Linked DNA regions of Homo sapiens. Changing the gene in region 3 together with the main gene of any one other region gives a genetic interaction. Each region holds a gene or a part of one and is shown on either strand. Other genes may lie near its edges. The genes, in order: SEC23B, SLC33A1, CUL5, RICTOR, CAND1, CTBP1 and NPRL3.

Region 1 (4,433 bases), on a different chromosome or scaffold from region 3:
ATTTCAAATATCAGAAAAAGCTTATAATTTTATTAATGTTATGGGAAAAATTGAATAGAAACCTCAATTTGTAGTAAGATTCCAATTTTGTAAAGAAATTAAAAATATATATATATATACACACACACACAATAATACACTTTACGTAGAAAAAAGCTGGAAATAGTTAACTCTTTAAATAATGATTCTAGGTAATTTAAATTTTCTTATTTTTTAAAACATATTCAAATTTTCTAAAATGAAACCATACTGTTATAATTAGAAAAGTGTAAGCATGATCAAAATGTTTTCAGAGGATTTCGAGGAAGGAATAGAATATATACTTTTCTCTATTCCTCCCACTAAGTACAACTGAAAACTTCGGGCATCTTATGTAAACCAAACATAAGAAGACTTTTAAAGGTGGAGAGAAGACAGAAAAACTAAAGACCTTGGGACCCAAGGATGCACAGCAGTGAGTTCCTTGGGCTTTCTTATGCCTCATATACTCTGAATTTGGAGCTGAGGAAGCTGGCAAATTGTCATTGAGCACAGACTCAAACAAAACAAAACAACAAAAAACACCCACTTTCTCTAGCCAAAGGACTAAAGCAGCCTAGCAAGACAGAACAATCTTAGATAATAACCACTGTACTCCGGGCAAAAATGAGAGGAAAAACTGTGGCCCTGACCCACCTGAACCAGCAAAGGCTGGGTGGGCAGCTACAATTTCTACCCTCACAAGGCAGTAACAAGGCACCCTAATACTCCCACCAAGATGGTGCCAGAGAAGGCTAAGTATGGAACCAGGAAGTTCATCCCCAATGGCCAAGTAAAAAAATTTTCCTACCCCTGTGGTGTCAGTAGAGGCCATTTGGGGAGCCTGGACTTCCACCGCAACCTGGCAAAATATATGTCCCTCCGCCTGCCTACTGGGGTGGCCTCAGAGGCCTGGAGGAGGGTCAGGACTTTCACCATCACCCAAGTGTAACAAGGCCATCTCCACAGCGGTCTCACTGGAGGCTATGGGGGAGCTGGAACTCTCATTCCCACTAAGCAGTAACAAGAAATCACTAGACACCCCGAGGTGTCAACAGAGGCCAGTGGAAAACCTGGACTTCTCCACCTGGCAGTAATGGAGCCCACCAGTGCCCCCGACACCCCCCCCACCAACCACCTTCCCTGTCAGAGTAGTGTAAGAAAAAATCAGCGAAAAGTAGCAGGTTTAAATAAGATCCAGGGTCTCATACAAACACTCAAGTGTCCAAGTTTCAATAAAAAAATCACTTACACAAAGTGATTACCAAGACCTCCACCTGAATTAAAAAAGACAAGTGACAGGTGTTAACACTAAGTTGACAACAATGTTAGAATCACCTGACAAAGATTTTAAAACAGCCATGATAAAAATGCTTCATGAGCAATTACAAACACACTTGAAACAAATGAAAAAATAGGAAGCCTCAGCAAAGAAACAACAAGGTCCCAGGAAAGAAGTGGAAGTCACGGAGAACCAAAAGGAAATTTTGTAACTGAAAAATACAGTGACAAACAAAAAGCGCAGTGCATAGGTTCAATGCAGAAAGAGAACAGAAAAAAGAATCAATACATTGGAAGACAAAACAATAGAAGTTACCCAAATGAACAAAAGAAAGAAAATACATGGAAATGTAGTACCTGGGGTACTGCAAAAGATCTAACATTCATGTCACTGGATGTCAAGAAAGAAAGAAAAGAGAGCAGGTGAAAAGGCATTCAAAGAAATAAGGACTGAAAACTTTCCTATTTGGCAAGAGATAGAAACCTACAGAAGCAAAAAGCTGAGTAAATCAAAACAGGATAAACCCACAGAAATCCATGCCAAGACATGTCATAATTACACTTTCTTCTCTGCCCCTGCCCATCCACCCTGAAAACTAACAACAGAAAAAGACTACTGGAAGCAGCCAGAGGAAAATGACACCTTCTCTACAGGGGAAAACAATGAGACTGACAGTGAACTTTTCATAAGAAACCATAAAGGCCAGAGGAAGCAGCACAATATTTTTCAACTGCTTAAAGAAAAGGGCTGTTAGTCAGAATCCTATATGCAGAGAAAATATTCTTCAGAAATGAAAGGGACGTCAAGACATTCTCAAATAAAAGAAAACTAAAAATCTATCACCAGAAGACCTATGCTAAAAGAATGGTTAAAAGTAGGCCAGGCGCGGTGGCTCATGCCTGTAATCCCAGCACTTTCAGAGGCTGAGGCGGGCGGATCACCTGAGGTCAGGAGTTCGAGACCAGCCTGACCAACATGGAGAAACCCTGTCTCTACTAAAAATACAAAATTAGTCAGGCGTGGTGGTGCATGCCTGTAATCCCAGCTACTCGGGAGGCTGAGGCAGGAGAATTGCTTGAACCTGGAGGCGGAGGTTGCGGTGAGCTGAGATCACACCATTGCACTCCAGCCTGGGCAACAAGTGCAAAACTCCATCTCAAAAAAACAAAAAAAAAAAAAAAAGAAAAGAAAAAAGAAAAAAAGAATGGCTAAAAGATCTCTAAAAAGAAAGAAAACAATAAAAGCAACCATGTAGAGAAATATAATAGGTTTTTCTTTTAAGACTTATCAATTATGTTTGATGCTTGAAACAAAAATTATAACACTGTCTGATGTGATACTAAATGTATGCAGAGGAAATATTTAACATAATTATATTACCGATGGAGGAGAGTAAAGTGTTGAAAAGGGAGGTAAGGTCTCTAGACTTCGCTTGAACACCAGTAGACTGTGATAAGTTATGCATATATGATGTAATACCTAGGGCCTGGCCAGGTGTGGTGGCTCATGCCTATAATCCCAGCACTTTGGGAGGCTGAGGTGGGAGGATCGCTTGACCTCAGGAGTTTAGGACCAGCCTAGGCAACATAGCAAGACCTCATCTCAATTAAAATAAAAAAACCTAGGGCACTTAGGAGCAACCACTTAAAAAGCTAAATAAGGAGATACACTCAAAAACATTACAAACAAGTCAGAAGGGAATCCTAAAACATGTTCAAATAACTCATGGGAAGGCAGGAAAAAAGTACGTAAGATGAAAAAAGAAAAGCAGAAAACAAAAAATAAAATGGCACACTTAAGCCCTAACATATCATTAATTACATTATATATAAATGGTCTAAATATACCAAGTAAGAGAGCTCAGCAGAGTGCATTAAAAACCATGACCCAACTATAAGCTGTCTATAATAAATTCACTTCTTTTTGTTTTTCAAGATAGCGTCTTGCTCTGTTGCCCAGGCTGGAGTGCAGTGGCGTGATCTCAGCTTACTGCAACCTCCGCCTCCTGGGTTCAGGCAATTCTCCTGCCTCAGCCACCCAAGTAGCTGGGACTACAGGCGCATGCCACCACACCAGCTAATTTTTGTATTTTTGGTAGAGACGGGGGTTTCACCGTGTTGGCTAGGCTGGTCTCGAACTCCTGACCTCGTGTTCTGCCTACCTTGGCCTCCCAAAGTGCTGGGATTACAGGCGTGAGCCACCGCACCCAGCCAAGAGTTTTTAAAAACCTACTGCAAACAGGAGAGAGGAAATAACAATGACTAGAGCAGCAATCAATGAAATTGAAAATAAAAAGATAATAAAGTCAATGAAATGAAGAGCTGATTCTTTGAGAAAATAAAGTAAAAGTTATTCAGATTGAAAAGGAAGAAATAAAACTGTCCCCGGCTTGCAGATGACATGATTGTCTAAGTAGAAATTTCTGAGAAGTTTACAAAAAAACTCCTAAGAGTAGTAAGCGACTCAGGAAGGTCACAGAATACAAGATAAACATACCAAAGTCAATTGTATTTCTATATACAGTCATCCCTCAGTATCTGTGGGGGAATGGTTTTAGGACCTCCTGTGGATCCCCAAATCCACAAATGCTCAAGTCCCTAATACAAAATGGTGTAGCATTTGCATATAACCTATGCATACCCTCCCATACACTTTAAATCAGGGGTCCCCAACTGCAGGCCACGGATAGTACCAGTCCTTGGCCTGTTAGGAACCAGGCCACACACCAGGTGAGTGGCAGGTAAGTAAGTGAAGCTTCATTTGTATTTACAGCTGCTCCCCCATCACGTGCATTACCACCTGAGCTCCACCTCCCATCAGATCAGTAGCAGTATTAGATTCTAATAGGAGTGCAAACCCTATTGTGAACAACGCATGTGAGGGATCTAGGTTGCATGCTCCTCATGAGAATCTAATGCCTGATGATCTGTCACCGTCTCCCGTCACCCCCAGCTGGGACCATCTAGTTGCAGGAAAACAAGCTCAGGGCTCCCACTGATTCTACATTATGGTGAGTTGTACAATTATTTCATTATATATTACAATGTAACAATAATAGAAATAAAGTGCATAAGTGTGGTGATGGAAATGCTGCACATCTTGACCTTAAAAATCTCAATATCCCGGTTGTGAT
Region 2 (4,433 bases), on a different chromosome or scaffold from region 3:
CTACCATATGAAAGAAGCTGTATCTAAACCTGTTAGGAGGTTAAAAAGATAAAAGTGCATATAAATAATATTGAAAAAAGATGCTTTTCAAATCTTTTTCCATATATATAATTCTACGCTCAGATATTAGTGGTATTGATGAATGTTCCTCATTTTACCCTTTCTTATTTAGTAAGGTTTTATTTCATTTTTACCTGTAGGGCATGGCTTTGTAAAATGTGTTTAATGGCTGGGGACCTGCAGTGTATTTGCTGATAATCAGAGGCAGTATTATCTGCAAAGGAACCATTGGAACTGCCAATAAGGCTAAATGTTCTTTGGGTACTCCCTCTTCTACCAATTTCAGTCCTGTTACAGCATCTGCTGCTGAAAAACCAATCTGCAATATAAAAACAAAAAAGTATTTTAATTCGTGACTTATGAAATATTTTCCTCCATGCATATGTAAGTTCTTCAAGAACCTCAATTTTATTACTGACCCATGACAGTTACAAGTGAGCATCATATTATTATACCTGGTACAACAGTCAAGTTATACGAGGTACATTTTGCCTTATGGTTTTCTAATAATATTAAGTGAAAACAACTGAAAATTCAGTACTGGTAGGGATGGTAGATGGCTATAAATACAACTAAATTTCCACTTCAAAAAGTCCAATGTGTTATAGTAAACGGGGTCAAAAATCCAAATTTACCAATTTGAAAGTTTTAGGTTTAAAAGAACTTAAGCCTTTAATTGACCCAAATCAATCTGGTTAAAATGAAGCATAACTGCCAATATATATATACATTTTTAATGATTTCTGACTGACCATAATAAAATTTCCTAAGTTCATCTAATGTTTCAAAAGTAATTCTGGGAAAACGTATCTGAGAGATTGAATAAAATGAAAGGGATAAAGTATAGTTAGATTAATTCTTTAAAACAGCACAAAAAAGAGTAAGAATTAAATTAAGATTATTTAGATAGCCTCAAAGTATCTCCCCATGAGTCAGTTTTTAATTACAAAAGAAAAAATAGTACTTTTACAATAGATTAGCAAAGCAATTAAAGTTAAAAACAGCAGTTAAAGGGATAAAGAGACATGATATGGCTTTCAGTATAATTCCCTGCAGACATCAAAACATTACTTCTTTGATCTTCCTGTCTTATATACCTGAATAACCTCAACCCAAACAAGAAGAAACATGAGAGAAATGTAACTAGAAGCCCATTCTACAGCATAATTGGCCTGTATTCTTCAAAAATGTCAAGGATATTAAGGACAATGAAAGGCCATACCAACTGAATGCAATGTGTGATCCTAGATTAGATCCCCAACAAGAAAAAAATTAAAGTTATAAGGACTGTTATTGTGTAAAATTTGGATATGGACTATAATTAGACAATAATATTATATCAATTTAAAATTTCCCAATATTGAGTTGTGGTTTTGTAAGCAGAAAACTTGTTCTTAGGAAATACATACTTAAGGTACTTATGGATAAAAGTGCATAATGTGTACAAATTACTCTAAAGTATTTCAGAAGACATATGTAATGGATATACATAGAAAGAGAACATCTACAGAATAAGGAAAGTGTAGCTAAACGTTAATAATTAGATAATCTGGATAAAGGATATAAAGGAGTTCTACTAATACATTTTCAAGAAGTGTGAAGTTATATCGATACAGTAGGCAGAAAGAAATTATTTAGGCAGATAGTGAGGGCAAAAGAGACCTCGGCAGAGCTTCCCTTCTAACAAAAAGCGGCCCCCAAAATCATTTCTTTTCTAACGAAGAGCAGCCTGAAAAACTTGAGTTGCAAACATAGATAAGCAAGCTGGAAGCTTGCACGGGGGAATGCCAGCAGCTGAACCAACAGAAAAGGGCTACCTGGGAGCCAGGCATGTCCACCATGAAAGCTCCACCTTCTCTTTTTTGTTAGCATGTGTACAGTAAAAAAATGGGCAACATGGTGCAGCTCAGGCAGAGAACCTGCCTGCATGATAAAAAATTAGGGTGGGGGCTGCCAGAAATTCATGCCCTATATAAATGGTGCACCTGGACCTTACCGGTTTTTCATGCCCTATTTAAAACAGACACTGCCTCCCCACTAGCTCATCTAAAAAACCCCTTGCATTTCACCACAGATCTGGCAACACATTTTTCCAGGACACCTCTCTGTAGCACAGAGCTATTCTCTCTCTCACCTACTAAACTTCTGCTGTTAACCTCACTCTTTGTGTGTCCACGTCCTTGATCTCTGTGGCTGTGAGACAGCAAACCTCAGGTACTACCCTAGACCACAAGGCCACTTCAATATCACACAATTTTTTTTTTTTTAAAGAAATTATAAGGCCAGACGCGGTGGCTCATGCCTGTAATTCCAGCACTTTGGGAGGCCAAGGTGGGTGGATCACGAGGTCAGGAGATTTGAGACCATCCTGGCCAACATGGTGAAACCCCATCTCCACTAAAAATACAAAAACTAGCCAGGTGTGGTGGTATACGCCTGTAGTCCCAGCTACTCAGGAGGCTGAGGCAGCAGAATCGCTTGAACCTGGGAGGTGGAAGTTGCAGTGAGCCAAGATCGCGCCACTGCACTCCAGCCTGGTGACAGAGTGAGACTCTGTCAAAAAAAAAAAAAAAAAAAAAAAAAAAAAAAAAGGAAAGAAAGAAAAAAAGAAAGAAAGAAAAATTATAAATAGTATACACGGTAACTTCTTGGAATAGAGCCAAAGAAAATTTCACCATAAAAAAAATTAAAGGTAACATATATTTCACTTAAGTCCAGAAAATAATTTCACTTACATTTTACTCATTCCCTTTGTAAAAATAAGACATACAAACTGACTTTAATGTTTAATCTTAAAATGTTAAAAAAGTCTTAAAAGTTATATAGTAGGAGATATTTGTAATACACATATCTAATAAAAGACTCAAATTCAAAATATATTTTAAAAAGTTTGGTCTGGCACAGTGGCTCATGCCTGTAAGCACAGCACTTTGGGAGGATGAGGCGGGAGGATTGCTTCAGCCCAGAAGCTCAAGACCAGTCTGGACATCATAGTAAGAACTCTTTTCTACAAAATATTTTTTTTAATTTACTGGGCGTGGTGGTGGCACATGCCTGTACTTGGGTGACTGAGGTTGGAGGATCACTTGAGCCCAGGAGGTCAGGGCTGCAATGAGCTGTGATGGTGCCACTGCACTCCAGCCTAGGTGACAGAGACCTCATCTCAAACAACGAAATCTAAACAGAAACAACAACTTTACAAATTTAAAGAAAAGGGCAACTTTGGATATTCAAATGGTCAATAATCACATGAAAAGATGCTCAATTTCTTTTGTCATTAGGGAAATTCAAATTATGGCAATAACAAGATGCCATTACACAACCACCAGAAAGGCTAAAATTAAAAAGATGATATACACCAGGTGCAGTGGCTCACGCCTGTAATCCTAGCACTTTGGGAGGCCAAGGTGGGTGGATCACAAGGTCAGGAGATCGAGACCATCCTGGCTAGGTGAAACCCCGTCTCTACTAAAAATACACAAAATTAGCTGGGCGTGGTGGTGGGTGCCTGTAGTCCCAGCTACTTGGGAGGCTGAGGCAGGAGAATGGTGTGAACCCAGGAGGCAGAGCTTGCAGTGAGCCGAGATCGCGCCACTGCACTCCAGCCTGGGGGACAGAGCGAGACTCCGTCTCAAAAAAAAAAAAAAAAAAAAAGATAATATATGTGTTTTCAAGGATGTGAAACTCCTTAAAATCAGAACTCTCTTACACTGCTGGTGGTAGGGAAAATTGGAACAACCACTTTGGAAAACTATTTGGCAGTACAAAATACTATGCATCTTCTATGAACCAGCAATTCTATTCCTATATATTTACCAATGAGAAATGTGCACCTATCTTCACCAAAAGTCACGTATGTGAATGTTTGTAGAAACACTACACATAATAGCTCTAAAAATCTGTTGATAGAATGGATAAATTGTGGCATATCCATACAACGGAATACTATACAGTAATGAGATAAACAAACTATTGCTATAAATAAAAATATGGATAAATTCCACAAATATAATATTAAGCAAAAGAACATATGCATCAAACATAAAAATATATATTGTATAGTCCATTAATATATAATTCAAAAGGAAAGAAAATTAATCTGTAGTATTAAAAGTTAGGAGATATGTTATTAGGGGGGAAGTTTAAAAGAAGAAAACAGTATTATAGACTTTGTAATTGAAGTACCTCCTTATATATTGCTGGAGACAGTATAAATTAGTATAACCTTTTGAAAAGCAATTCAGCAATCATATTACATTCATTGACCCACTAATTGCCTGCTTAATAATCTATTGGCTGGCCAGGTGCAGTGGCTCACACCTGTAATCCCAGCACTTTGGGAAGGCCGAGGTGGGCAGATCACCTGAGGTCGG
Region 3 (3,615 bases):
ATTTGGCTATACTCAGCAAAACTCTAAATGTTTTAAAGTTGCTTTCCTTCCATTCAGCAGGCAGTTCACAAAGCCTCTTCGGATGGGGACAGATCCTACGAAATGCTCTTGAAAGCACTCCACTGTAACATAATACTGTATGCCTTTCTGTACTCCATTTCCTACTATCTTCAAAAACCATACTTTAAAAATATTACTTAACATCAAATAAGATATAAAATAATTTGCAAGAAAATTTGAAACGTGCACCACAATGAATAAAAATCCACGTTGAGCCATTCTTTCCTCAAGGGGAATCAATTTTCTCTTTCAAGTTGTTCACGTCCTCAAGTCCTAAAATTTCCACTACTCTGGGTATTCAGTTGCCAGCAACTAGTTAAGTTGCTACTTTGGATAGACTGAAAGGAACATGGTAAATGTTGCCTTCTGACGATTTAAAAAATGTTTATTTTTAAAATATATAAATATATATGTACATATATTTGGCAAGTTTACTGCTCGTATTAAGAGTGCAACAATTTTGCTTCTGTTTTTCAGGTCTTATGTTGTGGTTTTTCTCTTACCCCTAGGTGACTGATTCAAACCTGAGGCTACAAATCCCTAATCATGAGACCTTAAAATACCAAAATACTTCTATGCTACAGATTAAGAGATCAGTTACATAACTATATCAGAGCAGGAGATTTCTGTGTTGTTTTTAATAAATTCAGATATGGCATAATAAATATTAGGTATATAAACATTAAGTGTGTTAGTAAACACACAATATGTTTAGTAAACACACTTAATATGTTTGTTTTGCTATTTTGGCTCTGCAATCATAATGACCTACCTATCTCCATAAATTTTTTAAACTATTGAAGCAACAATTAATATAAGCTTCATTTTTCAAAACAAGCTTTCCAGCCATATTTAAAAAAAAAAAAACTCCTCATCATTTAACAACAACTAAAATAGCAGTCTCCTGCTTAAAGAAAACCAACATTTGAAAGTTGAAAATATTTAATACCATTTTTAGGTCACCATTAAAATCCAGTTATTATACTGAGCAATGTTTGAACAATTTGATACTATTAAATACTTAACTTCTCACCTACATCTGCCGTTTCCCAATGTTGCATTGACCAGCTCACTCTTTTCATCAAAAGAAACCAAGAGTGCTATTTCTAGTTTTAATTGCATTTTTTAAAAACAAAAGATAACAGCATTTTTCAGTGCATGAATATCTGAAGATCCTTCCTTGTGCAAGTACATTTTTTAAGAGAGGAAAAAAGAGAAAAAAGCAACAAGAACCCCACCCTCACCCTTCCCAACTGTATTTCTCCTGGTGGGTACAAATCAAATTCACTTTTAAAAGTTGATAATGGGCTCTTCATGAATGCAAGTTTCTCCACAAAACAGCATGCTGTCAAAGAGTGTGCAACATGAAGGGAATGCCATCATGCTAACTAATGTGATTGGCAAAATATAGTTGTTTTTGTAAGGTAAGGCAGAGATTTTAATATTTATGTAATCAAAGTCCAAATAAACCTTTCTCCAGCACAAACTTTACAACTTTCTGCCCAAGCACTCCAAAATTTGGGTTCTAAATATTGTCCATGATATTCAAAATTATGCCATATATATGAAAGTGTTGATATCAGATTCATCTCTTCTGATGTATTTGTGCTCTATTAGCCACTCTATTTGCTCTTTTATCATTTTCTTTTGTGGCAAGAACATGTTTTTCAAAATTTCTACTAATTCAGTCTGCAGCTGAGCATTACTAATTTTCTTTCTCATTTTCATTATTTGTATGATAGCTTCCTAAAAGAAAAAATAAAAATAAAAGCGCATTAATATACGAAATTATTTTAAGTACAACAAACTGAAAAATGACTTTTTATGCATATTCATCCTCTATCCAACATCTACCCAAATGAATAATAATCACTAGGGGATTAATGTTGAGACTAGTATCTTTTACTTAACAAATAAAAACATCTTTTGTTTTCTCATGCCCCATAAAAGAGAATCTGCTTATTGGGGTGGGGGGATAGGGGAGGGATAAGCATTAGGAGAAACACCTCATGTAGATGACGGGTTGATGGGTGCAGCAAATGACCATGACACGTGTATACCCATGTAACAAACCTGCACATTCTGCATATGTATCCCAGAACTTAAAGTATGTATTTAAAAAAAATCTGACTATAGAGATTTTGAAAAATAAGGAAAAGCAAAATTACCTCTGCTTCTCTGCTGAAAGAAAACTACACCTAATGTTTTAATATTATTTCCTTCAATTCCTTTTTTCCCATGCCATTCACATTCTTAAAAGTTATCTTACCTGTGAAAACAATGTGTATATAACCTGGTATCATGTTAAACATTAATTAAAATATAACAAACCCCTTACACCAAATTTTTCCCTTGTATTCAGTTATTTCTTTGTATAGCAGTACAGGTCAGGTGGGGTCTGTTTTAAAAGTCATTAAGTAGTACTCTTTATATATTTACCAGATTAATTAATTATATTTGCTACAAATATTATCTTCAGTTTATATTGACTCAATTAAATGTTTTTAAGGTTTTTTTTTTCCCCTTCTTCTCTTTAAATACAGACACAAGGTTTTGCTATGTTGTCCAGGTTGGTCTTGAACCCCCAGACTCAAATACTCCCCTGCCCTGGTCTCCCAAAGTGCTAGGATTACAGGTGTAAGCCACGATGCCCAGTCACTTTTAAGTTTCTAAAGAAATAAATCTTTTTCATCTAGGTCATTTTATCAAAATTTTTCTTGATGATTTCCTTAATTACTGTTAAGTTTACAATAAGAGTTATCAGAAAATCATTAAATATTCTTTTCTCTTTTACCTTTTCCAGTACCAGCTCTCTCTTTACCCAACAAAAGGCATGTATATGCCGGGTGTGGTGGCTCATGTGTGTAATCTTAGCACTTTGGGAGGGTGATGTGGGTGGATTGCTTGAGTCCAGGAGTTTGAGAACAGCCTGGGCAACATGGCGAAACCCCATCTCTATAAAAAATACAAAAATTAGCCAGGCATGGTGGCGTGTGTCTGTGGTCCCCGCTATTCAGGAGGCTGAAGAAAGAGGATTGCTTGAGCCTGGGAGGTGGAGGTTGCAGTAAGCTGAGATCACACCACTGCACCACAGCCTGAGACCCTGTCTCCAAAACAAAAGGCATATATCTATCTTAGCACAGATTAGAGTTTGTTGTAAAAGAAATGTCAAAATAGAAAAAGAAGTAACATTTGCTTTTAACGTTTAAAAATATAATTTTGCTGCAAATCAACAGACTTGGGAGTCAGGCACTATTCAGTAAGAGAAAAACTCCTTCAACTTCCCCTATATAGATATGATAACCAGCCAGGGAGGGTGGCTCATGCCTGCAATCCCAGCAATTTGGGAGGTTGAGGTGGGTGGATCGTTTGAGTCGTGGAGTTTGAGACCAGCCTAGGCAACATGGCGAAACCCCATCTCTACAAAATATACAAAAACAAATTAGCTGGGTATGGTGGCACGCGCCTGTGGTCCCAGCTACGCAGGGGGCTGAGTCAGGAGGATCACTTGAGCCTGAAAGGCAGAGGTTGCAGTGAGCTGAGATTGTACCACTG
Region 4 (4,433 bases), on a different chromosome or scaffold from region 3:
TCTGAAATGCGAAACATTTCATCATTTTGGATAAGTGATGTTCAACCTGTAACAGTTTATCAGAGCTCAAAGTACTGGTAAGAGAATCTAGGCCTAGAAATACAGACTGGGGTGCCAGCATGGAGTATATGTGAATGCGTTATCAGTAAGGATATTCAACATGCCATGAATGCCACTGAATTTTTGAGCAATTAATGCTGCGCATTAAGATTCTTCCTATATCATGTTAGAAGCAGAATATACAAAAACTCAGAAATGTTAAAAATAATTTATGATGAACTAGTTTTAAATCTGATAACTGGGTACGCACCTTTGGTTACTCCGACGAACATAGTTATCACCATCAACAGGCTTCCGGTAAGTAGTAAGTGCTTCATTGAGTTGTTCCTCAATCAAGTCAACATATTTGGAGTTGTATTCCTAGAGGATAATATTGTTTTAATTGCACATAGTATCACAATGAGTCACTAAATTTAAAATATGTCAGATACTTAGCAAAGGGTAGACAGATCAAGGTATTATGAATGCAAATGTTCTATCATATCCATAAGCTTTTGGCTCAGGTTTCAACTAGTACTATATACTAATGACCCCCATATCTGCCATTTTCCTCACAAATCTGAGCTCCAGATCCACATTTTCAAGCCATCACGTGGTTACTGCACAGACAATGCCAGTTCAACATATTGAAAATTCATTAGCCTAATCTTGAATCACTTTTTATAAATGTGATCTCTTAATAGTGATCCATTATATATTGTCATTAAATTAGAAACCTTATGAGCCAAGTTGGACCTCTTATTTACTGTATCCAATCAGCCCACAAATTCTGTCCATCTTATTTTGAAAATACCCAGAAAATGCGTCCTCATCTAATCAACCTAACTACCAGTGAAGTTCAGGCACTCATCAATTCTTGTTTCTAAACTTGTGTCAATATTTCTAGACTTTACCTTCAATGATCAAAATTCCTCCTCTTCACTGCAACCTGTCAGATTACTAAAGCACAACTCTGATCACTCTTTAAAAGCTGTTAAGGATTCCCCACTATATATACAATTGAAATCCCTTAGGATGATATAATATGGCTTACGAGGCCTTTTACAATCTAGCTTTAATTTACCATTCCAGCCTCATCTTGCCACTCCACACTTACCTTAGTTCCAACTACATTGGAATATGACTTTCTTCATAAGTCTATAATGTTCCAATGATCTATACAGCTTTATTCTGCTCCTTCTTCCGTGGATACCCTTCTTCTAATTTATTTGCCTACTTACTCCTCAAGACCATTTCAAGTATCACATCTACGGCTCCTATTCAACATTTCTTTTGATAATCCCTAAGGCAGAATCATTAATCTCTCCTCTGTGTTCCCTTATACCTTGCATGTAACTTTGTTATAGCTCTTATATTTTATGCTATTTTCAAGCACTGCACCAATATTCTAAGCAATTTTCTAATACTATGATTTGTATAATAAATTTTATTATGATGATTTAAATATCTTCTAGGAAACAAACCTATCACATCTTGTCTCAGTTCTACAATTCATCAAATACTAAAAGACTTCATGCCTTAAGTTGTATGCTTGGAAGTTTTAGTCCATTTAAGGAGTATCTCTTATGAAATATGGTTCAATATAGACACTATAAAAGAATGTGTAACTATGTTAACAAAAAAGAGAAAACAGGATAACTGATCTGAAATGATGAAAAATCTAAAAATCATTTATATCGGTAAAGATCATTTTGACCATGGGTTTCCAAGATGCTTCGATGACTTATAATACTTCAAACAAAATAATGAAGCCACAGCAATCACCAGCTAAAGAAAAGCTAGAAAAGTTGTTTCATATCTTCAAACTACTCCCTTCTTAGCAGGTTTCCCTATGACAGCAAGAAGTTCATTCTCAGATTTAGGTAAAGTAGTATCCTAAAGTAAAGTTTAACTAAATGATTATATCTCCTTGGGATTTCAATCTCCCTTCATTTAAAAAAATTATTTTGGTTTTAGCTTAAAGGGCTCATGCAAAGTTGTAGGCCATATTAAGGGACCGAAGAATGAAAGAAATGATAAACAGGGCCAAAAATTAGATTATAAAATCAAATGAGTTGAGAGTCAAATTTCAATAGAACGAATACAGTCAACAGTTCAGAATGAAAGAAATAACTGTAGTTTAAAAAAATGTATAACTATAAATACTAGCAATTATGCAGAATTTAGGATTCAACTTGATATTGATGTTTAAATATTTAACCTTATTAATTTCAAAACACTGATATAAAAAAACCATCCTCTAAATTCACAAATCAATTTCAGAAGATAAAAACACACAAATTCAACTTTATTCAAATAAGAAGTTACCCTGTGCCACTTTTCCAATTGTTTTGCTACATAACCTCTTTCATTCAGATAGGAAAATCCTTTTGGAATGGAGAGAAATCTGCAAATTAAAACAAGCAATAGTTTAACATTGAGTCTGGCAAAAACGTATCTTAAGAAGCTAAAATAACTAAAATTTAAAAAAGTATAAGGAGCTAAAAGACTTTAGGAATAGTTCGTTCCTAAAACTAAAAGGTCAACTATAATTTATTATAACTTCAATTACAAATAAATTTTCACAATCTTTGCAACAACACGCGAACCCAATCACAATAAAGAAAATGTCAGCCAGGCACGGGGGCTCACGCCTGTAATTCCAGCACTGTGGGAGGCCAAGGTGAGTGGATCACCTGGTCAAGAGTTCAAGACCAGCCTGGCCAACATGGTGAAACTCCAACTCTACTAAAAATACAAAAAATTAGCTGGGCGTGGTGGTGTGCGCCTTTAGTCCCAGCTACTTGGGAGGCTGAGGCAGGAGAATCACTTGAACTTGGGAGGCAGTGGTTGCATCGAGCCAACATTGGACCATTGCACTCTGGCCTGGATGACAAAGCGAGGCCGTCTCAATAAAAAAAAGGAAAATGTCATGAAAAGTATGAACAGACCAAAAAAATTAAAAAAAAAGAAAAACCCAAAATAATGAAAAGACAATGTTTCAATATTAAAAGGTAAACTCTTCAGCGTACTTCCCATTTGGATTTGAATCTATCTTTAATATACACTGCCAAAGAACACAACAAAAAAACATAACAGAAAATTTACTTAAAATTTACCTCAGCAGGAGAAGCAAACCCTTGTCTCCAAGGTGGGATAACGCTGGTTTCATCTGAATGAGAGCATGAAGATTGGCCTAAAAGAGATTATCATTATTTTTTTATAATTGCACAAAAATAGCAAAATTTTTAGTTCCAAAATGCCTATTATATACTTTTACATAATTGTCAAATGAGTATTTCAAAAAAATTTAAGTATTAAATTATAAAAAATGAACCTTTACCTTGTCTTCACATGCTTCATCGAGGATATCAAGAGCTTCAGAGGAAATCGTTTTGTTTTTATCATGTAGCTGGGTCACTAACAACTCAATTCCCCAATTATTAAAGAATTCAACATTAGCTCTCAATAATACCCTTAAATGTTTTGTTGCATAGAGTCTGCAGGCCTATAAGGATAAATGAATACATTAAAAAAAAAAAAAACTTCAGCATAAATAGCCTATTTGATTTTATTTTGGGATAGTCCTGCTACTTGAAAAGGGAAGAATGCCTGGAATTGGTGGTCTAGCCCTTGATATGAATACTTTTTTGGTTCTTGTGAAATAGAATACTTCCCTTTCTATCTAGCAGCTTCTTCCCCCGATACAAAAATCTGAGTACTATATGCAGTTCCTTGGAGAAACTAAAATTTTAAAGTAAACTCAATTTCCATATCATATTCTTAGAACTTAATTTTACTTAGCCCAAAATTCATAAAGTAGTGAATTAATTGGTTATAAATATAGTTTTACTGGCTATGTTATACTCACATCAGTAGCTGCAGTTAAAATTTTGGAAAGGATGACTCTAGCCAATCCATCTCTGCTATAGTCCAAGCTAGAAACAGTAAGTTTTAGCAAGTGATCTTGGTTTTTCAAGGAGCAAAGATTAAGGAGACTTAAAAGAAAAAAAAAATAAGAATGGTTAAAAGAAATTACTATATTGATACATTAATTAAACAAATATTTTTTCCAGCTTTACTGAAGTATAAATGACAAATAAAAATTGTATTATTCAAAGTGTATAACTTGATTTGATATACACATACATTGTGAAGATTACCACAATCAATGAACACATCAATCATCATACATAGTTACTATTTTGAATGCTGGAGTGGGAAGAGCATGAAGTCAATTCAACGTATATTTTTAAAATTCCTAATATAAACAAGCTTTTTGGAAAGAAAGCATTTAATAACAACAATTTTAAAAAGAATATTAAAGCAAAGATAATGCTAATTTAAAATAAAACTTAACCAAACACATGTACACAGAATAAAAAGCATACCAT
Region 5 (4,433 bases), on a different chromosome or scaffold from region 3:
GGGTAGTATGGCTCAATTACTGCTGAGTTACCACTTTTGTCCTGCTTGGCCAAAAGCCCTAAATGGAAGAGTAGATGAAAAAGACACAATGCATATATTTTTCATTTTTCAAATCACCCTTTTACTGTTCACATTTTAAATGGAGACGAACACACAGGAAAACAAAGAACACTTATATGCAAAATTCATTATCCAAACATAAGACGCAGTATGATTTCTCTCAAGTAGCTTCTACAGATTGTTTTGTATATCTGAAAAGTTCCATGTCCTATAACAAAATTCTTGATATTAAACACAGTATATTATATTGAAAAACAAAAATTCCTCATTCAGGTAAATGATACAGTTACAATTCAGACTAGCCCCAAAGGTAGCTCAGGAGACTTAATCAAGACAATGCTAAGAAAACCCTCCATGGGTAGCAACTATGGTCCAATGTTAAGACAGGCCAAAAAGTTACAGATTTATACTTTAAACAGCAAAATCTGTCGGGACTTTTTTGAGGGAAAGGATCTAGGGACTATTCACTAAGCAAGTGGGCACACAGCATTTTGCATCCACTGCCACTTCCTCCTCCAATAAAAAGGGCTCTGGATCTTTCTTACACGTCAACTGGTGTTACACTGCCTATTACTTTTGCACTTTATAGTTTACAATATGCTTATCAAAATCTTCACAGACAACCTGATTTTTCTCAGACACATGAGTAAATTACAAGGGTGAAAGTTGCTCTAGCAAAGTCTTCTTCTAAAACATTGTATAAATAGGCACAAACATCTTACCTTAATATCATAATGGTCCTTCAAACCATCTTCAACATGATTTAGAAATTCAAAGATATCAAGTCTATCAAGACAACTGTCTAGAAGTGTGTACATACACTCAAATGCTGCCTTTCTAATATCCAGACCATCATCAACCGTATGTTTAAATGGACCCATTTCTACCTGTTAAAGCAAAAAAGAACGTGTGGATATACAATACTTAAGTCAAAGACAAGCTCAAATAAACAGTGTGATCTAACTTACCTCTCTTATAAGCTCCTTTCTAACTTTTGTTTCATTGTAAAGATGTGGAAGAACAGTATCCAATAGATCCCTTATTAATGATGGCTTGTTATGTGCTGCTGAATTAAATGTGACCAAGGCTACTCTTCTCACATTCAAATCTGGGTCTTCCAAAGTTTTTAGGAAATCACCTGAAATATTACAAGAAAAGCAACAGACAGACATGATAAACTTAAAATACAATATACATTATATTTTCTCTAAGTTGATATAATTTATTTTTGCTGGTGTCATTGTTATTTCTTCAGTGACGGTCAGGGAAGAACCTGATGAAACACTAAGTGAACCATAACGTTTCTTTCAGCAGCAACGCAACTATCATTTCTGAAGGTGAATATATTTTCAATTGATAATCCACTCTCAGCACTTATAATGCAGAGGGTATGGAAGAAGAGTCCATAAAGTTCCTCAATATCACTTCTATAGATATAAGATATGACAGAGACAGAGCTAAAAAGACTAATCACATGCTTGATTCTCCTTGTAGTTCACTAAAAGCAGCAACAAAAATATTTTTAAACTAAGTTCAAAATAAGAATAAAAAAATGAAGTGAAGACAGACCCACTGCTTAATAAAGATGGAGTACTATTAGCAGATATACAATTAATCAAATGAAAGAGAAACGTGCCTCCAAAAGCCCTACTTTATTTCTGTCTTCAGTAAGAAATACACGAATTCACAGGAAAATAATATAAAAGGAGAAAATTGAAAGCTAACATAGGACAAAAGCCAGAGAAGCCATCTAGGTATTTTAAAAGTCTGCTTACTCTTGCAAATGTGGGCAAGAAAGTATAATGCAAAGATCTTTGGAGTCACATGGTTGGTGGTTCAAATCATTTTACTTGTTAAATGTATGATTTTGTGCAAGTTACTTTAGGCAAGAACCTCAGTTTCTCAGTCAATAAAATGAGGATTATAAACCTTTTAGAGCTATACTGAGCAGAATAAACGGCGCATATATTGTTGAAGACAATGTCTAGTACACACTAAGTATTCACATGTAGCTATTATTCATCATTATATGATCTCAACTCTATCATCAGCAATCTTTTAGAATACACAGGGAAATGTAGGAGAGATAAAAGACTTGAATGCCAACTTGAAAAACCTGCAATTTGAAAATATGGGAGGAAAGAGAGACTTCAGATACTGTAGATTGGGAAACCCAATGTTGATATCCAAGAAAGTTCCAGCACTGATTTAAAAAAAAAAGTCTGAGAAACAGCGTGGTTTCAAAAACAATATAAATGTACCAAACTAATCTCCCCTCCCCTTTATTTGCATACTAAACTGGTAGATTAGAAGAGTAATTACAATAGAGTATATATCCGCTTTCAGTAAAGCATCTAAAATATTGCTATTATGGACAAAATGGTGTCATGAACTAGCAATTTCAATTTTTAAAAAGTTTCCCAGGTGGTTCTGATGTTCAAATAGTCATGAATACTTAACTAGATCATAATTCAATTAGAATGCTAACTACCTGGCTGAGTAACTGTATCAACAATGCATACTGGTTGACTGCTGTCAACATGGAAAGATATTTCTAGAGATATGGCATGGGCCTCTTCCTCTGTCCTATTTTGCATAATACCAATGTCCTCAATAAACATATCAAAGCAGAAAATGTGTGGGGGAAATGCCAATAAGTTGTTTCTCATATAGACTTTAAATAATTTCTAGGCCCTAGCAATAGAACCCATTTGTGCCTGTGCTTTCCTTATTCTGAATTGGCAATCCCTTTCTATGCAGTTCAAATTTTATATTGTATTTTTTTTCTTTCTGGCACACTGAAGAATGGCACAAAGCTACAAAGCTTCTTTGCCAAATCCCTCAATCCTCCCTGATGGTTATCTCCATTATCCTGTCCTCAAGAAAGCAACAAACTAAATTCTGAGGTGTTTTTGGCTATTATCAAACTCTAGGAAAACCAATGATAAAAACAAAATGCAAGGAGGTTATAAAATCAGAAATAATCCCAAAAGCTAATTCTTGTCTTCACAGAAATAGAGAAGCCCTAGTTTTTCTTGGGTTATCTCCTCTTAGTTCTTCTGGGAATTAGCTCTCCCCCCCTTTATTTTTTATTCTTAGGTTATTTTGACCTTAAATATGGAAATCTCCATAGATCTCCTTGGGTGTTAGAAGTAATAATTGAAATTTGAGGCCTTAATAGCTCAAGCAAGACTCATTTAAATCTAGGGAGAAACTTCAGACTGGCCATATAAATCTAGTATCTTTTTGCTTTATCCACTAAAGCTATCTTAGGTCACCCCAAAAATATGGCTATCAAATATGTAGTTGACTCTAAAGACATGCTGGTATATTATAACTTCATTTATGTGCAAAATCATCTAGGAATAATTACAAACAATACAGGCAAATGCAATTTGTTAAAAGTTGTAAGATCATATCAATTTTCTTTTAAACAATTATTTTATAAGCATTTTAATTCCTCGATATTTCTAGTTACTAAGTTCAAGAGTTTCTTGAGAATTCTAAAGTCCAAAAATCAGTATGTTTATCTTTGTTTCCACTTACCTATGCAGTTCTTTAACAGTGGATCAATAGGTTGTGGATGGTCAGAAATTGTAAATTTCACAGCCGTAACCACTGAGCTTCGGGCATATGATGAGCCTAGTTAAAAATAAATTGCAAGTCTATTGGTATGTAGTCCACTAAAACTCACGGACATCATTTTTAAACCACTCCAAATAACACCAGTGTCTTCAATGCCTTAGAATTCTCCTTGGCCAAGAAGGGTATTTCTTATTGCACACATGAATCCAAAGGAGCAAAATTAACTTACTTATGAGCACAAAATATAATCCCATTAGATTTCAAAGAAACAATTCCTTCTGGGAAGGAGGGACTTGAAGCAGCAGTGGACGATCTCGCCCTCACAAAATAGAACTAGCTAAATCCAAAACCGCTTAAAAATCTTCAAATTTTTTACTAAAACAGAAAGCAATGTCTAAGAATGAATGGCTATTACTGCTATTAATATTACTACCTTTTACTTGTTCTAATGGGGATGACACTGGTAAATCTGAAAACTCTTCCAGAATCTTCCATTTGAAAAAAGTACTGTCACCAATTATACTTATTGTAATTAGTATCAACAAGCTCTTCAGATTATGTTAATTCATTAGATACATCTTTTCCACATTTTAACACAATATAGTAACATTAAAATGTAGTTATCATGAGGAATTAGAACAGATTTAACCATTATCTAATTACCACACTATCCTTTAAAACAACAAAATGTCATTTGAATATCACTCCATACTACGAAAGACAGTTTTTCTTCATCACATACTTAGCTTTTAGGTTTAAGAAAATATAGACATGGCTTAACTTCTTTA
Region 6 (4,433 bases), on a different chromosome or scaffold from region 3:
CTGACAGTCTTTGCCTCTTGAGTGTTCAGTTCATTTATTTTTAGTGTAATTGCTGATGATTTGGATTTCGGTGTCATCTGGCTACGTGTTTTCTGTTCATCCTTGTTTTTCCTTTCTGGCCTTCTTTTATATTAATCAGGTGTTAAATGATTCCTTGCATCTGTTGTTGCTTTTTAACCTATACTCTGCTTAGTGATCGTGTTTAGTTTTACTTTAGAGATTAGGATACGCCTTCATAACTCACTGCCACCCAGCATAACCTGTGAAGACTCGTCCAGGGCGGCCAGAGGCCCGCGGTGGCTCCTCTCACCCTCGGGCCGATTTTCCACGTCTATTATGCAGAAAACCGTACAAGAAGCTATTAGTCATGAGTCTGTCAAGGAATTTTTCAGTAATTTTTCTTTTGAATATCAACCGACACATCCACCCTTTCTGCCTTGTTTACGCCCCCCGATTCTGGCTGTCCTCGGGCGTCACGTTCCTGTAGCCTAAAGACTGTCTTAGAAATGTGGCTCACCAGTGACCGATTCCTTTTGCTTTTCTTTGTCCGAAAATGTGTTGCCTTTTTTTTTTTTGTGGAAGGTAGTCTCGCTCTGTCGCCCAGTCTGGAGTGCAGTGGCGCGATCTCGGCTCACTGCAGCCTCTGCTTCCCAGGTTCACGCCATTCTCCTGCCTCAGCCTCCCGAGTAGCTTGGACTACAGGCGCCCGCCACCACGTCCGGCTAATTTTTGTATTTTTAGTAGAGACGGGGTTTCACCATGTTGGCCAGGCTGGTCTCGAACTCCTGACCTTGTGATCCGCCCACCTCAGCCTCCCAGAGTGCTGGGATTACAGGCGTCAGCCACCAAGGCCTGTTCTTTAAAATTTATTTTTTAAATTCTTTTCTCTCTGCTTCTGTTTGGATGCCATCTGCTGACTTTGAGCCCCTCCCTTCAAGCTCCCGATCCTTTTCTTGCAGTTAGCTTTGTCCAGGGAGTTCCGTTTCAGAGGGATGTTTTCGTTCTGGAATTTCTATGTGGTTCTTTATAGAGTTACCATTCATCTTCCGGAAGCCTCCATTTTTCTGCTGTTTACATCCACACTTGTTGTCATCTCTGAGCATGTTTATAGTAGTTATTAAGAGGTTTTGCTGGCTGATTCCAGCCTCGGTCATCTGTGCGTCTGTCCGCTTCCAGTGTTTTGTTCTAATTAGAAACTACATCCTCCTGTCTCTTCACCTGCATCATCATAATTTCTTATCCTAAGCCAGACATCATGTGGAAGAGAATGGCAGAGACAGAAGTGAAGAATGGTCTCGCCCCGAACAGCCGCTGCTCTCCCGTGTCAGGCGTGGCCGGCGCCGGCCCGCGGCTTTAGCTGGTTTTCGCCACCGGCAGCCCGACTTCCGGGGCTTTGTGTTGTGCGCAGTGGGAAACAGCGTGTCGTCCGCCTTCTGCGCTGTGGGAGACGCCTTTCTCTGTGTCTGCCTGTGTTCTCTTCCTCCCCATTTGGTGGGATCCCTGGCAGGGGGCGTTGACAGACGGGCTGTTCTGCACCTGGGGAGCTGCCCGGGTACTCCGGCCGTGGCTGCAACCCTCAGAACTGCTGCTCCCACCTCCGCCTGCCGAGCCCTCCTCCCTCCTGCAGCAGCCTCGTCCCTGGGGATGGAAGGAGCCACCATGTTCCTTCTCGTAGAACAGGCGCCTCCCTTTCTAGGATGTAGTGCGTTTAGACGGTCCTCAGCTCTTCTGACTGGCCTCCCAGCCTCCCCCAGTCCTCTTCCCAGAGTGACTGGGGGTCCCCTGGGCGTTTGGGCCACGTCCGGCCACCCTGTGTGCCTGGCGGTCTGGTCTCCTTGGCCCTCAGGCCGCCGCGGGCCCCTCGCACGTGTTGTTCCAGCTCTCTGGCTCCCTTCCTGTCCCCTTATGTCTCCAGCAAGCTTGGTCTTCTCAGGGAGGCCTGCCCTGGCTGCCGCCTTTGAAACTGCGCCCACTTCCCACCCGCCCCGGCGCTCAACCTGCTTCCTTCCTGTGTAGCGGTTCCCTCTGAGGCAATGCAGGAGACACCACGTTCGCGGGCTTGGGGTCCTGTGTCCTTTGCAGCCATGCTGTTGGCTCACAGTGGGCACGAGCACTCTGCAGACCCTTCCCCGAGGAGGAGCCGGCCCCAGCCAGACACGGTGGCTCAAGCTCCACGGCTCCTGTGCTGGGACCCGTGCCAGCCTTGGACTGCTGGGGTGGGGGCAGGCACGTCTGCCTGGGATGGCTTTCTCTGCCGCTCCACTCGAAGGGGTCAGGACCTGAGCCCAGCGGGGCCTCCCTGGTCTGGAAGTTTCCCTCCTGCCCCCTTTGCCGTCTCCACGTAGTGGTGGCTGGAATTGAGATGCCGGAAACATTGATGGGTGGATCGAAAGGCCAGCGGAGGGGCCTGGGCACGGAGGACATGTGTTGGGTGGGTGGAGACCCACTGACCAGTCCGTTTGACACTGAGTGGTTCATGTCACGTCCTGTGGACAGGCTGCAGGGGAGTGGTGTGGCTGGCAGCTGGTGTGGGCCGAGGGGCTAGTGTACCCTTTCCACCCCTGTGCATCTCCTCCGCCTTGGCAGTGGGCGCGTTGGAGCGGACGTGGAGCGCTCGTGTGGAGCGTGCGTGGGCACCTTGGCTTGACCACAGCTGGTGTCATCCTTGGCAGATGGTCAAACTGAGGCACAGAGGCCACTCCGACCCTGGCTTTCGGGGCCGGCCTCCCGGCCACGGGTGAGCAAGGGTCTCACACTGTGTCTTGACGCCACCAGGTCGCGTGGGGCAGGCAGTGGCGCTGCGGGCCAAGGCCTTCGGCTTCAACGTGCTCTTCTACGACCCTTACTTGTCGGATGGCGTGGAGCGGGCGCTGGGGCTGCAGCGTGTCAGCACCCTGCAGGACCTGCTCTTCCACAGCGACTGCGTGACCCTGCACTGCGGCCTCAACGAGCACAACCACCACCTCATCAACGACTTCACCGTCAAGCAGGTGCGTGGAGCCGGGGACACAGGACTCTACTTCTGCGGGGCAGGTACAGGTGGGGGTGTCAGGCAGGTCCCTCCCAGCAGCCATCTGCACCTGGGCAAGACCCTGCCTTCAGCGAGCCACATGGCGGCGGCTGCCAGCCCTGCTGGGGGAAGCCCTGTCTGCCCAGACAGCGTTTTCTGTGTTCTGAGTTCTACTCAGGACATCTAAAATACTCTCTGGACAAGACAGAACCTCATACCTTTGAACACCAAATTCCCCTGAAGCCCTTGCTGTTGTCACAGTGGGGACAGATGCAGCTACCTGGGGGCGTTGGGTCGGCCCTTGTGACTTCCGTGCTGCCAGGTTCAGGTTTCACATCTGCAGCTGGAACGGGCTGTGCTCAGGTCGGCCTCTGACATCTGCAGCTGGAAAGGGCTGTGCTCAGGTCGGCCTCTGACATCTGCAGCTGGAACGGGCTGTGCTCAGGTCGGCCTCTGCCTCAGCACAGCTCGCAGTGCAGCCTCAGCCCTGCGTTCCCCTTGAGTGGGTGGAGCTGGGGATGGCTGCCTCCCGCTGGCTCCAGGCCCTTCAGGGAGTCATCGTGTGTGCACAGTGATGTGTATGTGTGTGGGCAAGTGTGCGTGGGTGCATGTGTCTGCATGTTTGTATGAGCTTGTATGTATGTGCATGTGTGTACACACGTGTCAGAGGCCACCCGCCCACTCTAGCTGCCCCAGCAGCCTGTAGCCACAAGGAGGATGAGGCCAGGTTCCCGCTGCCCCTTCCTTTGTTCACAGAGTCAGTGGGTTTGGAGCCTTCTAGGGGACAGGGTGTGGCACGTGGATGCTGGTCAGAGCCCTGCCGTCCCTGAGGACCTTGGGTGTGAGGCTTTAATGGGCAGCAGTGCACCAAAGAAAAGCCACCGTGACCTGCCCAGCTGTCAGCCAAGCACCGTGGCTGGGTGGACTTCTTGGAATGAAATGGGGGGGCTGCAGGAAAGCCCTGGCCACGAAGCCGAGGGAGAGCCACCCGCAGGGCTTTTTGCAAAAGTGCATGAAAAGCGAGCCTGTTCCGAAGACGGAGGCTCTGCTGCAGGCCCCGCTGGGGTTGGAGTCAAAGACCACGCCTCAGAACAGACGGCCCTGGGCTTTGCCGTCCCAGGGAGTCCCACCTCGTGGGCTGAGGCCCTGCGTGGGGGAGGCTGGGCTGGAGGGGACCCAGAAAAGGGGTACCACAGGGGGACCAAGCCAGGAGCCCCCGCCCAGTCCTCAGCTCAGGGCTTGGGCAGGAGGGTGGAGCTCTCTAGGAGCTGTGGGGCCGTGCAGGTCCATACAGGGCAGATCCTCAGCCAGCCTGTCAGGGCCGCGGTGCAGCACGCCCGAGGCCTTCAGTCCTAGCGCCGTGGTGAGCCCAGGGTGGGGCTGGGAAGGGGCTAGGGAGCTGGGCCTTCCCAACGGCGTGCGT
Region 7 (4,433 bases), on a different chromosome or scaffold from region 3:
ACCCCAGCAGCCTTCCGCCCTCCGCCTGGGCTCAGGGGAGCAGAGCCTGGAAGACGGCAATGACAGGGTCCTCGTGGGTGGTCACCACCAGCACGCTGCGGAACTTGTCAAACAGCATGAGCAGCTGGGAGCGCCGCGTGTTCTCGTTGTACATAATCTCCTCCAGGTGGTGGCGGCCGCGGAAGTAGTGAAGGAGCCTGGAAGGGATGGGTGGGTGTGAGCCCAACCTGACACCAGCCCCCAGAGGCCTCTGCTGAAGAGCCACTGCTGGGAATCAGCTCTGAGCTGCCCACAGGCCTGAACAGAGCTGGTGGTGAAGGCCAGGGAGGCAGCCACCACAGCCCCCCAACAAGGGTGGGCAGGCCTCCTGGACCCCATGCCCACCACGGTCCCGCTGACCACCAGGTGGGCGGAGTGGGTTCAGGACGGCAGACGGCTGTTCAAACCCAGAGGTGCCCAAGCCTGCGTCCTGATGTTGGGACCAGGGTTCTGCTGGTGGCTTCTTTTTCGTGCTACAGTGAGTCCCACGTAGCTCTGGAGCCAAATGGTCACTGCTTTTTTTTTTCCTTTTTTTGAGAGACGGAGTCTCACTCAGTCACCCAGGCTAGATTGCAGTGGCTCGATCTCAGCTCACTGCAACCTCCCGCCTCCCAGATTCAAGCGATTCTCCTGCGTCAGCTTCCCAGGTAAGCTGGGACTACAGGAGTGCGCTACCACACCTGGCTAATTTCTCTCTTTTTTAGTAGAGACAGGGTTTCATTATATGTTGGCCAGGCTGGTCTCGAACTCCTGAACTCAGGTGATCCACCCACCTCAGCCTCCCAAAGTGCTGAGATTATAACCGTGAGCCACTGTGCCCAGCCTGCTTTTTTTTTTTTGAGACGGAGTCTCGCTCTGCTGCCCAGGCTGGAGGTGCAGTGGCGCGATCTGGGCTCACTGCAACTCCCGCCTTCCCGCCATTCTCCTCCTCCCGCCAAGCTCCGCCTCCCGCCTTCAGGCCATTCTCCTGCCTCAGCCTCCCCAGTAGCTGGGACTACAGGCGCCCGCCACCACACCCAGCTAATTTTTTGTATTTTTTAGTAGAGACGGGGTTTCACCATGTTAGCCAGGATGATCTCGATCTCCTGACCTCGTGATCCACCCACCTCAGCCTCCCAAAGTGCTGGGATTACAGGCATGAGCCACCGCGCCTGACTTTTTTTTTTTTTTTTTTTAATGTCACCATCATTTGGAAGGTCACTGCTTTAGGGTGCTTTCTGCAACTCAGGCTGGCACAGAGGAGGCTAGGATGCAGGTGAGACCTGGACCAGCTGCTCAGAAGAGTTGCAAGTGGTTCTCTCGAGGGCCGAGTGTGGTTCTCAACCGGAAACTCAGTCCCTGACAACCCGACCACTCCCGGGAAACTATGCCCCTGCACTGTCCCCCAAGTCAGGGTGGGGCTGACAGAGACCACTGAGCCACATCACCTTTAACATGGGGGACCCTGGATGCCCGCAGGGCTTACAGTCCTGGGCAAACCCCTGCCAAGTCCCATGAGGGTGAGAACTTGGCACTTAAATTAGCCGGGCGTGGTGGCGGGCGCCTGTAGTCCCAGCTACTCAGGAGGCTGAGGCAGGAGAATGGCGTGAACCCGGGAAGCGGAGCTTGCAGTGAGCCGAGATTGCGCCACTGCAGTCCGCAGTCCGGCCTGGGTGACAGAGCGAGACTCCGTCTCAAAAAAAAAAAAAAAAAAAAAGAACTTGGCACTGCCTCTCAAGGGAAAAGGAACATCTAAGAAGTACTGGAGAGAGAAGAGTCCGAAAAATAGGCATGCCAGGCCCATGGCCCGGCGTCTTGGTGACAAGCCGAACCCTCAGGCCTGGGCAGTGGCACCTGCCCCTACACACCTGAATGCAGAGACTCCATCTCGAACAGGGCCCCATCTGTTCTCAGTGGATTTGGTGGTTCTGTTGCGTACGTCCCTATCCACTTTCTGCCCTGACCCTGCAACTGGCCCCAGTCCCAACGGGTCAACCTACACCCACCTGGCAAACATGCGGAGGTCCTCAGGGTTCTGGGCTGCGGGTACACTGAGGATGGCTGCGCGTTCATGCTCCGACAGGCTGGCCAGCAGGTTCTCCGTCATCCTCTGGTTCAGTGGCGAGTCCCCGCTGGGAAGTAGCTCTGCGCTGGAGTTGTCCATGCTGGGGCTGGTGAGGGTCATGTCATCGCTGCTGGCTGTGGGGGACATGGGTCAGGGTGACCAAGTGGAATTCCAGGACACCCAGGGGAACAGCGAGGGCAGAGCCAGCAGCCAGCCTCCAATGACACCCCTAACTCCTACAAGGGTTAGGGTACATCTGCCTGCAAGCATTCGCTGCTGCCCCACCTCCTGGGTGTGACACGCCCCTCATACGGCTGACTTGGGAAACGGGTAGCCTCCCCTCTGGGGGCAACCTCAAGGGACCTGAACAGAGGTGCGATGTGTGCCCCACAAACACCCCAAGGTGGGCCTGGGCATCCTGTCCCTCACCCAGGATGGAGGACAAAGCACCCTGGGCAGGTGGGGTCCTCACATGAAGCATGAAGCCTACAGCCAGACCTCAGCCAAGGGGGGACTTTCAAAGTCTTCCACCCCCTTCCTTCCCCAAGCCTGGGGACCGGGGACCTGGGACCTGGCAACAGGCTGCTGCCCTCAAGCCACACTGGCCATGACGGCTCTTCTGGGGCGCAGAGGTGTCAGCTGTCCTGGTAGTGGTATGAGATCCTGCTCTGCTCCCAGGCTGGGGCAGAGATTCCAGCACTGATTTGCTGGGCTGGGAGCTGCCCCTAATTCTAGCAAGCCTGCTGAAGAGCCCGGAGACAGAGCTGCCACCTCAGAGTCACGGTGGTGCTAGGAGACAGGAGAGGTGTCTCCACGGGGGACACGAGGCACGTGCATGTGCGTGTGCAGCTGTGTGGAGGCCCCTCATCACTCACAGCACCACCCACGTTGAGCCTCCTGGATGCCACCCCCAAGCGTCTCCCCTGACTACCACAGCGGTGCCCTGGGGGTCCTACTTGGGGAGCCAAAGCTGAGGGCGTTGGGCGTGCTGAGGCTGCGACCGCCGACCCGGGCAGTGAAGGGGACGTCGTCCTCTCGCGGACGGGGCTCCTCCTCGCTGGGTGAGGCCATCAGGCAGACATAGGTGTGCAGCTGGATGAGAAGCCGGCGCTGCAGCATCCACACCACCATCTGGATGAGCTGGGTCTGCGGGTGGCAGCAGGTGAGGCTGGTCCCCCTCCCCACTCCAACTTCCTCCTGGGTGATCAGGGAGCCATGGCCCTAGACATGGCCACAGCACGCTCCCTGTGCTGACGCACAGGCAGAAAGGCCCTCTTCTCAGAAAGGGAGCCCCCAGCTGCCAGCCAGCTCTGCAAGGCCCGCTCACCCTCCTGGGAAGGGAGAGGGGCCAGGGGAACATCTGGATCACACCTGCACAGGCTCCCACCACACACCGGGGCCACCCAGCATCTGGCTGAGGAGCAGGACCTGAGACGTGGAGGCCCCTGTGACTGCTTCGCTGAGCAAACCCCCCACCCTGTGCTGCTGCAGCTGCCCCTCTGCCTCCTCTCTTCTTTGGCCCACTGGCCCTGGAGTTGGACCCAGCCAGCAAGTCCACCTCCACACAAGCCCAGACACTGTTTAAAAAGAGGCTGTGGGCAGGTACCCTGAGAGCAGAAAGTCCTCTCCTTGGATCTACCTGAAAGTCCACCCTGAGCACAAGAGTGGATCCACAAGAAAGCTGAGGCCAGTGACCCTGGGCTTGGGGGTGGAGCACCCCACCCCCACCCCCACCGTGAGAAGGCACGTCCTGGCCAGGCCCTCCAATGTCTCTGGGTTAGCAGGTGGGGCTGGCAGTGAGGAGCAGTGAGGAGCCTTGTGCCAGGTAGAGTCCAGTCCCCATGAGAAAGTACTGCCCAGACTCAGGCGTTGAACAGTAAGGAGTGTGAGACACATCAGTGTCCTCAGATACACATCTGTCTACTCATCTCTGGGAGGGTCAACAAGGAGCTGCTGGCCAGGGTCACCTCCTGGGAGGGGGCTGGGGAACTGGGGATGGGAATGGGGGATATATCCCAGGCAAGTAAGAAGACTTGGTCAAAAGGACTGCAAGATATCCAGACTTCACATGAATTTAAGAAATAAAACAGACGCGGGTGGATCACTTGAGCTCAGGAGTTCGAGACCAGCCTTGCCAACACAGTGAAACCTCATCTCTACTAAAGATACAAAAATTAGCCGGGTGTGGTGGCACACACCTGTAATCCCAGCTACTTGGGAGGCTGAGGCAGGAGAATCACTTGAACCTGGGAGGCGGAGGTTGCAGTGAGCCAAGATCACGCCACTGTACTTCAGCCTGGACAACAAAGCAAGTTTCTATATCAAAACAATAAAAAAAAAGCTGGGCGTA

The links.
Region 1: changes in CUL5 (region 3) and SEC23B together harm fitness more than expected from each alone (negative genetic interaction), as found in Homo sapiens cells (one large-scale study listed by BioGRID).
Region 2: changes in CUL5 (region 3) and SLC33A1 together harm fitness more than expected from each alone (negative genetic interaction), as found in Homo sapiens cells (one large-scale study listed by BioGRID).
Region 4: changes in CUL5 (region 3) and RICTOR together harm fitness more than expected from each alone (negative genetic interaction), as found in Homo sapiens cells (one large-scale study listed by BioGRID).
Region 5: changes in CUL5 (region 3) and CAND1 together harm fitness less than expected from each alone (positive genetic interaction), as found in Homo sapiens cells (one large-scale study listed by BioGRID).
Region 6: changes in CUL5 (region 3) and CTBP1 together harm fitness less than expected from each alone (positive genetic interaction), as found in Homo sapiens cells (one large-scale study listed by BioGRID).
Region 7: changes in CUL5 (region 3) and NPRL3 together harm fitness more than expected from each alone (negative genetic interaction), as found in Homo sapiens cells (one large-scale study listed by BioGRID).

What each region holds. Positions count from the first base shown.
Region 1 is NC_000020.11:18,555,795-18,560,227, reverse strand, and holds part of SEC23B (protein transport protein Sec23B), read right to left. Parts: intron 1-4,433. UniProt on the Homo sapiens protein: Component of the coat protein complex II (COPII) which promotes the formation of transport vesicles from the endoplasmic reticulum (ER).
Region 2 is NC_000003.12:155,833,663-155,838,095, forward strand, and holds part of SLC33A1 (acetyl-coenzyme A transporter 1), read right to left. Parts: intron 380-4,433; coding exon 195-379; intron 1-194. UniProt on the Homo sapiens protein: Acetyl-CoA transporter that mediates active acetyl-CoA import through the endoplasmic reticulum (ER) membrane into the ER lumen where specific ER-based acetyl-CoA:lysine acetyltransferases are responsible for the acetylation of ER-based protein substrates, such as BACE1.
Region 3 is NC_000011.10:108,102,381-108,105,995, reverse strand, and holds part of CUL5 (cullin-5), read right to left. Parts: intron 1,807-3,615; coding exon 1,612-1,806; 3' UTR 1-1,611. UniProt on the Homo sapiens protein: Core component of multiple cullin-5-RING E3 ubiquitin-protein ligase complexes (ECS complexes, also named CRL5 complexes), which mediate the ubiquitination and subsequent proteasomal degradation of target proteins.
Region 4 is NC_000005.10:38,955,285-38,959,717, forward strand, and holds part of RICTOR (rapamycin-insensitive companion of mTOR), read right to left. Parts: intron 4,038-4,433; coding exon 3,911-4,037; intron 3,548-3,910; coding exon 3,383-3,547; intron 3,236-3,382; coding exon 3,159-3,235; intron 2,447-3,158; coding exon 2,368-2,446; intron 421-2,367; coding exon 311-420; intron 1-310. UniProt on the Homo sapiens protein: Component of the mechanistic target of rapamycin complex 2 (mTORC2), which transduces signals from growth factors to pathways involved in proliferation, cytoskeletal organization, lipogenesis and anabolic output.
Region 5 is NC_000012.12:67,306,666-67,311,098, reverse strand, and holds part of CAND1 (cullin-associated NEDD8-dissociated protein 1), read right to left. Parts: intron 3,703-4,433; coding exon 3,607-3,702; intron 1,199-3,606; coding exon 1,029-1,198; intron 948-1,028; coding exon 783-947; intron 1-782. UniProt on the Homo sapiens protein: Key assembly factor of SCF (SKP1-CUL1-F-box protein) E3 ubiquitin ligase complexes that promotes the exchange of the substrate-recognition F-box subunit in SCF complexes, thereby playing a key role in the cellular repertoire of SCF complexes.
Region 6 is NC_000004.12:1,214,548-1,218,980, reverse strand, and holds part of CTBP1 (C-terminal-binding protein 1), read left to right. Parts: intron 1-389; exon of another isoform or gene 390-2,775; coding exon 2,776-2,990; exon of another isoform or gene 2,991-3,022; intron 3,023-3,290; exon of another isoform or gene 3,291-3,435; intron 3,436-4,433. UniProt on the Homo sapiens protein: Corepressor targeting diverse transcription regulators such as GLIS2 or BCL6. Has dehydrogenase activity. Involved in controlling the equilibrium between tubular and stacked structures in the Golgi complex.
Region 7 is NC_000016.10:86,674-91,106, forward strand, and holds part of NPRL3 (GATOR1 complex protein NPRL3), read right to left. Parts: intron 3,230-4,433; coding exon 3,040-3,229; intron 2,218-3,039; coding exon 2,025-2,217; intron 198-2,024; coding exon 32-197; 3' UTR 1-31. UniProt on the Homo sapiens protein: As a component of the GATOR1 complex functions as an inhibitor of the amino acid-sensing branch of the mTORC1 pathway.